2 linked regions of the Homo sapiens genome follow. The protein of the gene in region 2 purifies or fractionates together with the protein of the main gene of each other region. This does not show direct contact. Each region holds a gene or a part of one and is shown on either strand. Other genes may lie near its edges. The genes, in order: DUSP28 and CIMAP3.

Region 1 (4,824 bases), on a different chromosome or scaffold from region 2:
ACCATCCTGGCTAACACAGTGAAACCCCGTCTCTACCAAAAATACAAAGAAATTAGCTAGGCGTGGTGGCGGGCGCCTGTAATCCCAGCCACTCAGGAGGCTGAAGGACGAGAATGGCATGAAGCCGGGAGGCGGAGCTTGCAGTGAGCCAAGATGGCGCCCACTCCAGCCTGGGCACCAGAGTGAGACTCCGTCTCAAGAAAAAAAAAAAAGAAATGCTCAGTGGATCACTGGCATAGTTGTTTACACTGGCTTTGAAACCAAATTCCTGCAGAATTCTGTCAAATCACCTCAAGAGATCAGAGATTAAGAAAGTGACAATGGGCGGGTCTCCCTTTGGTTCCTGCTGCTCTGGTCATGTCTGTAGTGAGCTGCGTGGGAGCCGTGCTATGGAATAAAAAGTATGGTGACATTTGGTACCTGAAAGAGGATTCCAGCTCACAGCATTGTGTTTGACATACTGGTGTTCATCATCTTATAACAGTACCTCATCCCCATTAGTCTGCTGGTCACTATGGAAATTGTGAAATATATTCAGGCCCAGTTTATAAACTGGGATCAAGATGTGCATTATAAAGTAAATAGTGTCCACACCATGGCCAGCACATTCAATCTCAGTGAAGAACTTGGGCAGGTAAAATTTCTATTTTCTGATAAAATGGGAACCCTCACTTGCAATGTTAAGACATTTAACAAGTACCACTGCAGGTGTCATTTATGGTGCAACACCTTCCATCCGAGCCCTGATATTTTAATTACCCCAGTTTATTGGAGAACATTGAGAATGGCCATCCCACAGAAAACTATATAGACCAATTTCTTACCCTGTTATCTGTGTGCCACACTGTTATCCCTGGAAATATTATAATCTACCAGGCTTCCTCCCCGGATGAAGCAGCTTTAGTGAAAGGAGCAAAAAAACTTGGCTTTGTTTCCCTACAGGAACACCATACTCTGTCACCGTAGAAGCCATGGGTGAAAAAATCACTTTTGAAATTCTTAATGTCCTGGAGTTCTCTAGTAATAGAAAAAGGAGGCTGGGCACGGTGGCTCACGCCTGTAATCCCAGCACTTTGGGAGGCTGAGGTGGGTGGATCACGAGGTCAGGAGTTTGAGACCATCCTGGCTAACATGGTGAAACCCCCCATCTCTACTAAAAATACAAAAAATTAGCCGGGTCTGGTGTCACACACCTGTAGTCCCAGCTACTCAGGAGGCTGAGGCAGGAGAATCACTTGAACCAGGGAGGCGGAGGTTGCAGTGAGCCGGGATTGCGCCACTGCACTCCAGCCTGGGCAACAGAGACTCTGTCTCAAACAAACAAACAAAAAAAAAGAAAGAGAGAAAGAAAAAGGATGTCCGTAATTGTCCGAACTCCTATGGGACAGCTCCAGCTGTATTGCAGAGGGGCTGATGAAGAGAATAATTCCCCAATCACCCAAGTTGCCCTTCAACAATGTCTTCATCAACAGCTTTCTTGATCTAAATGTCCCACGTGGGTATGCATTTTCTCAAACAGAAGCATCCGTGGTCACGCAGGAAGAACTAGTCCGTTCTTATGACACTACTAAAAATAAACACAAGAAGAGTTGCTTTTCCTGATTTCACCTATGACTCAGATTCTGATTACTGTAGTCTGTACTCATGTCCTTCCCTGAGACTGGTAGAATGCGCCGGCACCCCCAAACACTCAAGATTCTGGAGTGTAAATAATGGAGGATCCCTATTTGCTTTTTCTTAATTTGTCTTCGATGTTTTACCAAATGTATTTCTTTTTGTGTCTGTAAGATAATTTGTGCATCACCTCAGCCGGAAATATAAAATTAAAAGCACTATGTTTCACACACACACACACAAAGGAAAACTCGATATGACAGTGAGGAAGAAGGGTAAAGACCAGCCTTCTGTATCAGTGCAGGGACATCCTTCCTCCAGGCAGCAGGCCTTCAAGCTTCAAGCCTCAGGGCCCAACCCTAAGGCTGGGGGCTCTCCCTGCAGGCAGGACTGGGCCTGGAGGGCCTCCTCATACTTCTGGAGCTGAGACCAGAAGCCCGGGTTCGGTTCTGCTACCGGGCGAGCGCTCTTCACCATCTGCAAACAAGAAGTGTACTGAATAACCCCAAGTCGCGCTAATGGCCAGCAGGGGCCAAGGCGGGCCCAGCTGTAAGAGTGGGCCCCGCCCAACCCGGAAGTGCCTCTCTGCTTCCCTAAGCCCGCCCTCACGAGAGAGACCCGCCCCTCCCGGAAGTGCCTGTCCCAATCCCGAAGCCGGCCCCGCCCGGAAAACTCGTCCCCGGAAGACACGCCCCTCTCGAAACACCGCCCCCCTAAAGGCCCGCCCACCTGGAAGGCCTTCGCCAGGCTGAGGCCGCGGTGCCGCATGAGGTACGCGGTGCAGACGGCGGCCGAGCGGCTGCGGCCGTTCTTGCAGTAGACTAGGCAGGCGCCGCCGGCGCGCACCGCGGCCTCCATGGCGGCGCACGTGGGCTCCAGGTGCGCCAGCAGGTCCTCAGCCGGGTCGTCGAACACGGGCACGCGCAGCTCTGCCACGCCGGGCGCGCGCGGGCCGGGCTGCTGGCGGGAGACGTTGACGCACAGCGTGACTCCCGCGCGCGCCAGCTGCTCCTCCGCGCCCGCGGCTCGCGCGCTCCCGAGGAAGAGTGAGGGCGCGACGCGCACCAACGGTGGAGGTACGGGCGAGGCGGCCCCGCGGCGCCCAGCTTCTGCCGGTCCCATGGCGCCCGCCGAAGAGTCTGCTTTTGGGCCCTGAGGATCTATTTTGGGGGCTCAGGCGCCCGCCCAGGAGTCTATTTGTGGGAGCCGGGCGGGCCGCCGGGCGCCCCCGGGTCCTAGAGGCCTCCGAGGTGGACCAGGCTGGGGCTTGGGTCCCCCGCGGGCGCTGGGCCGGGACAGGGGGCTTGGGTCTCGTTGGGGCCGGGGCATGGCGGGAGGTTTGGGCCTCACCAGGGCGCCGGGGCCTTGGACCGCTCTGCGTCCCATGTTCTCTGTCCCCGGGCGCCGTCCTCCCCGCCCCCGCGGCCTGTGGCACTGGGCTTGCGTCTGTGGCTCTTGGGCGCAGCGCCCTGCCCGCTCTACTGCGGCGTCTGGCGCGGAGGCGTGGCTTGGCCGGGCCCGCCCACTTCGCGTCCGCGTCGTTCGGCTAGGGCCCCGTGGCTACCCGGTGCACGTGGACGGCGGGCTGCGTGGTTCCCGTGTCTTCACCCTTTCCCTAGTGACTGCGTTGTCGGCTTTACGTTTATTCCTTTTTGTGGCCCGCTTTGTAATTGGTGCATTTTTTTCTATGTATTATAACACATGGCTCATAAAATAAAACTAATTTCTATTTTCATCACTTCTTCATAGACCACACTATTCCTTTTGCTGTTTCTAAGTAATTTATTGGGGTCAGCATTGTAACTTTAAAAAATTTAATATCACTTAATGTCCATGAAATTGCCATTTAAGACTCCTTCAATTTTTCTGACATCTGGTAATTTTCAGGCAATGGATACACTGAAAAGCAACTGTCTCAACAGCCCTACAGACATTTAGCAATTGAAGTTTCAGTTGCATACAGTCTCTCTCTGGGTTATCGTCATTGCTTTGTCCATCAGCCTTCTAGCATTGGTAACTGTCAGATCTTTATTGCAGCCTGGGGTTCACTCTTGAGCTAAAGACTCAAATATGTCTGCAGCCAGGTCTTCCCTGGTTGCAGCTCCAGACATCACCTCCGTGGAGGTCTTATCAGCATCTGTTTCCCACTTCCTCCACCCTAAGGAAGGACTCCAACTTTCCTAGGATGGAGGAGTGGAATTCCCTTTTTTTCCCTGGCGTTCATGGGAGCCATTGATTAGGTTGGGACACTGTCTCCCTCCGCTTTCTAGGAGTTGGCTCTGTCTCTGGCCAAAAGTGAAGGCCACACTCCCGTGACTGCTCTGGGAATGAGCTTGGTGTCTAATAACCCATGAAGGAGAGAGCACTTTGGAAGGCTCCTCTGTTCTCTCATGGCCATAAGGGGAAGCCAGCCTTGGGTGAAAGCAGAGGAGATGGGAGAGCCAAGGTCCTTGATGCCACTGTTGGGCCACTGAAATGAATCAAACAAAACCTGAAGTCCCTCCTCCTCCTGGACTGTTTCATGAATCATCATCACCCTTTACGGTTGGAGGATGGTTGAGGTGGGTTTTCTGCTCCAAAGCCTGCTACTTGAACCATCATGCTCCCACTCCATTGAGGTAATGGATTGGGAACCAATTCATCCTAAGTGTCTCTGCATCTCATTGCCACACTTAGTCTGGGCCAGCCTCTGTCTCCTGGACTTGGTGCTAGTCCCCCACAGTGTAACCAGAATGTGCTTGCTAAGAACAGAGGGTTTCTACATGTTGGTTCTGACTCCTTAGCAAGTTGTAATTCACAACTAATGTGGGTTGTGAAATCAATTCTGTGGGTCATGATCAGCATTTTAGTTTTTAGAGAAATAATAGACTACATGAAAATATTAGAGTGCATGCATGTAGTATGCCGAACTTTTAATGAAACATTTTTCTGAGTGGTTTGTACTGGGTCGTGGTGTAAAATGAGATTTTAGAGAGAAGTGAACTCAACAGACAGGCACTGGCGTGTGGAGGCAGAGCCCCTAGAACCCCAGAATCCTGGCCCAGCCTTAGTCCTTAGTCCCCGGAAAGCTAGCCAGTGGGGAGGGCCAGGGCATCAGCTCTTCACACCCCCTGCCCTGTTCTCAGAGGCAGTCTGGGTTGAGAAAACGCAAGCCCTGCACCTCCAAGAGCCTCTCCCCTCTTTGCAGGAAGGCCCAGCTGTTTCCCACCA
Region 2 (4,076 bases):
TTGGCCTGCAAGGCCTATGTGCTCCAGCATGCCCTCCATTTCTGTCTCATTTCCTACTTGCTCACTACACTCTAGCCATGGCAGCATGCCTTTTTGTTCACGTCAAATTCCTTCCCAATTTATAGCCTTTGCACTTGCTGTTCCTTCTGCTGGGAATGCTCGGTCCCCAGATCTTCACAGGGCTGGCTCAGTCTTGTCATTTAGATCTCAGGTTAACTGTCATTTCTTCAACCCTTTCTAAAGTAGACTCCAGGCCATCACTCCCTATCACATTGTCATCCTGTTTTACCTTCTTTGTAGCCTGGACAACCTACTTCCTGGTTTGTCCATGACAGTCCCTACCTTATGGGTACTGTCTTGGTAGAATTATTAATAGGCCCCCTTTTACTCTCAGAAGTGTCATCGTTTGACTAACAAATTATATGGTCACTCTATCACTATTGATATTTTCTTGTGTATTTGCCTGTGCTCTGTCTGGACTCTAGAATGTAAGCCCCAAGAAATCAGGAGCCTTGTGTGATGGATTTAGTGCAAAAATCTATCGAACCTACAAAACTACCTGGCATGTTAATAAAAATTCATTGAATGAGTAACTATGATTCTACATTCTACAATGCCAGAAATCTGTGAGACAATTGATTAAATCTCTGAATGGTTCCTTATTTAACTGCGATGGTTTGGATGTCATCCCTTCTTTATGTGCTTCTTTTATTACGTACTTCTTTTCCTCCTATTGCTTTTTTTGTTGAAGTGCACCAAAAGGGAGGAGACATACCTGGGATAGTAAGTGTCCTTTGGGTAGTTCTTAAATCGAGGCACCAAGACATTAAATGGAGCAAAATTTTGTTTGTGTTTTTCCTGCTGAGGACTTACTTTCTGGTACCTGCCTGCATGAGGTGTCATTTCCTGTTTCCAAGAAAAAGATCATTATGTTACAGAGTGATATGTATATATATACACATAAAGCCTTCCAGGTAGAAAAAACAGAATCATCCTCTTTCTGTTCATAAATCAGCTATGGTTCAGCCACCTCAAGCTACAGAAATAAGTCTTCGGTAGGTAGAAAACCGAGATACGGGTGTGGTTCAGCTACCTAGTGATACGTAATATATAGGTTGTAGAAATAAATCTAGGATGGGTAGAGAACCAAGGCAACTTATCACGGCCACTATGCTTAACACCTCACTGAGAGATTTTTAGAGATAGTATCTCTGCTCCCTAAGCTCAAGTGTCAGGAAAATGTCGTCCAATAAGAGATTAGGATCCCCTACTGAACTTTAGACTTGCAACCCAATCACACAAAAGGGTGGAAAAGTTGGAATTTGTTATTTAACTGACAAGACAATATAATGTATATAAACACAAGCTTCGAATGTTTAACCTCAGGCATCTCAACACTAAAGCCCTGTGTTGGGACCATTTCTTCAGTAAATTGTTTTCCACTCTCCCCGGTACACTCACACGCATATTTGCAATGTTAATGCCCAAGCTTTTCAGATAGGCTTCTTAATAGCTTTTGCTTAAATGCCTACTTTTCTTTAATTTCAGGGCATATTCTTTTAGATCACCCCCCTCTTGCTCTCTGCCCTTTGCACTCCTGTGCAAATGCATGCAACAACGTGGATAACACTAAAATCCCAGCACATTACCTTCTGTATTGGCTTAAACCTCACAGCTGTTCTGGCTCCCAAAGTATATCCTTTTATACTGGTTGGGATCTTAGATAAGTCGTATGCCAAGCCATATCCCTTTGGGTGGTATATTAAAAAACAAACAAAAACACCAAAAAAAAAAAAAAAGAAAGAAAAAACAACGCATAGTCAGAGAACATCAGGGCCATCGAAATGGAGTGAGCTTAGTGTGTTCCCATCTGAACCTTCTCTGCAAGGGATTATTCTTTATTGTCTTGACTCCTTTGAGGTCAAGACCATAGAATTACACAAGTAATACAGGTAACTTTGTAGAGGGGTGTGGCTGGATACGTAGACTATAGGACATTGCCATATATTCAAATGCATCAGTCTTCGGAGCCCCACAGAGCTGAACTTACTCTAATGCAACTGTCAGCCTGAGGTTTGGAGGAATGGGAGGGTAACTGGCACTGGCTCAGAGGCCTTTGGAAGTGAGGAAGGAGTAGGGATTTTATGAAGCTAGGGCTTGCGTTTAATGGAGGTGCAAGGCGGGGAGCAATAATCCTTTAATCTCTGGCATTGGCTGAAACAGCTGCTTGCAGAAGAACAGAGCGCTTTCTTATGCTGGGACTCTGGAGATCTCAAGTCCCACAGAATTTTTTCTTTTACGAAACTTGGAAACTTGGCTATCCCTCAATAGCCGGGGAACTGAGGAGCATCTAAGGGGAGGTGAATACTCACATCTGAAAAATAACACCCAGGCCCTCTGTGGGGTGATCCCCTAAGAGGGACAAACTTGTTCCCAATCAAATTCGGGGGATGGAAGTGAGGAAAAAGTTTCCTCTGTTGACATGTTCCAAAAGGGTAGTTATCCGCAGCGTCTAAAATAAAGAGGAGAGGCTCCACGTGAGGGACGGCACCTGGGTCTACGTGAGCGCGTTCCGGGAGGGGAAGGTCGGGGAGACTGAGCAGAGGACAGGGCCCAACCGTGCGCTTACAAAACCACGCCAAACTCCTGGAGGGGGGCGAACTGCACTTCCTCCCACTTCGTCTTTCCCAGCTTCCCCACCCTTCCCCCTACCTGCCCTCTACTCTAGGCTTCTCGGCAGCCCTCCTCACCTGCTCTGCTGAAGCACATCGCGAGCTGCTAGGGCTAGCACTTGTGTACTGCGTTGCCAAGGAAACGAAGGCTAGTCCCGTGATTCCCAGCTGCGGAGCGCGGGGAGGGGGAGAGGGCCCGAGCGCGCCTGCGCGGCAAGTTGGGGCGTCCACCGAGCCACTACTGGGGCAGGAACCCGCACCTTGGAGCCCAAAGCCCAGGGGATTGTAAACTCAGTAGCTGGGCTGCGGGTAGAGGGTTTCCTGGATTCGCGGCTGTAGGGGCTGCAGGGTTGACGGGGCGGCAAATAGCTTTGGAAGCTGGGCCAAGAGGAATGCGCTGTTGTAGAGGGAAGGACAGTGAGGTTCAGAATGTCCCGAAGTCTGGGCCACCAGCAAGTAAGGTGAAAGTAGAAAGACAGCCGCTGCAGCGTACCGGGGTGGACTCCCTGGGCAACGCCCCAGCAGAGGAGTAGGGGGCGGAGTTGAGCTGACAGCTAGTTCCATATTAGGCCCTTAGACCATTTTTCCTTTTCCTCAAGCCCCTCCAATCAGGTTGCCCATTCTATCCCGGGGGGCCGTGGGGAGGGGGCGCGAGGTTTTAAAAGAACTGGAGGCCTTGCGTGGACCGGGTAGAATGCCACGGAATCAGAGAAGACTCTAATAGTTTTTTTTTTAGAAGTTGGGGCAGTCAAATTTCTAAGCCCCAGTTTTCTCATCTCTAAATTGGGAATAAAAATTCCTCTATATAGGATTGTTGAGAGGATCAAGATGACGGGATTAAAACAGTTCAGAACGTGGTACTTGGTGGGTGACATACGACAGGTTATTATCACTGAAGATAATAATAACCGAAGAAAAAAAGATCAGAGTGTGTTTTGTCTTTTTTGCCTTTGTCATGGATATTAACACTAGCTTGTTTTCACTCGATTTTTAGGATGGCTTTAGGAGTTGTCCAGGTGTTAGAGGTTAACAGAACACCCAGTGTGACTGGTCCATACTTTGACCCTTTACAGGTGATGACCCTGGAATCCACACATACTCCGCGTTAGGACAGCCTTCAGGGATGATTTTTATAGATCTAAGGTAGACTTTCCAAAAAAGGTGACAGTGACTCCCAGAGGGTGTTTTGGAAATTTGTGGAAGAATTTTTGCTTGTTAAAAATTGTTGGGGTGTTGTTCCTGGTCAACAGGCTAGGGAGGCTAGACATCCTACACTGCATTGCCCAGGCATACAGTGAGTTGTCCCATGTCCCACATGACATTCAAATATGTCCTGTTGGACTCTACAAAAATAATTAGTAGTAGTTATATACATTAACATTGTGAAGAAATTTATAGGAAATA

The links.
Region 1: the proteins of CIMAP3 (region 2) and DUSP28 purify together in Homo sapiens (affinity purification with mass spectrometry; 2 studies listed by BioGRID and IntAct, with this or other methods). This does not show direct contact.

Annotation. Positions count from the first base shown.
Region 1 is NC_000002.12:240,558,597-240,563,420, reverse strand, and holds the start of DUSP28 (dual specificity phosphatase 28), read right to left. Parts: upstream 3,065-4,824; 5' UTR 2,737-3,064; coding exon 2,344-2,736; intron 2,092-2,343; coding exon 1,954-2,091; 3' UTR 1-1,953. Other genes in the region: ANKMY1 (ankyrin repeat and MYND domain-containing protein 1), read left to right, coding at 2,471-2,690. UniProt on the Homo sapiens protein: Has phosphatase activity with the synthetic substrate 6,8-difluoro-4-methylumbelliferyl phosphate (in vitro).
Region 2 is NC_000001.11:111,345,346-111,349,421, reverse strand, and holds the start of CIMAP3 (ciliary microtubule-associated protein 3), read right to left. Parts: upstream 2,801-4,076; 5' UTR 2,770-2,800; coding exon 2,751-2,769; intron 2,513-2,750; coding exon 2,373-2,512; intron 1,749-2,372; coding exon 1,650-1,748; intron 907-1,649; coding exon 776-906; intron 1-775. UniProt on the Homo sapiens protein: During primary cilia disassembly, involved in cilia disassembly. Required specifically to control cilia retraction as well as the liberation and duplication of the basal body/centrosome.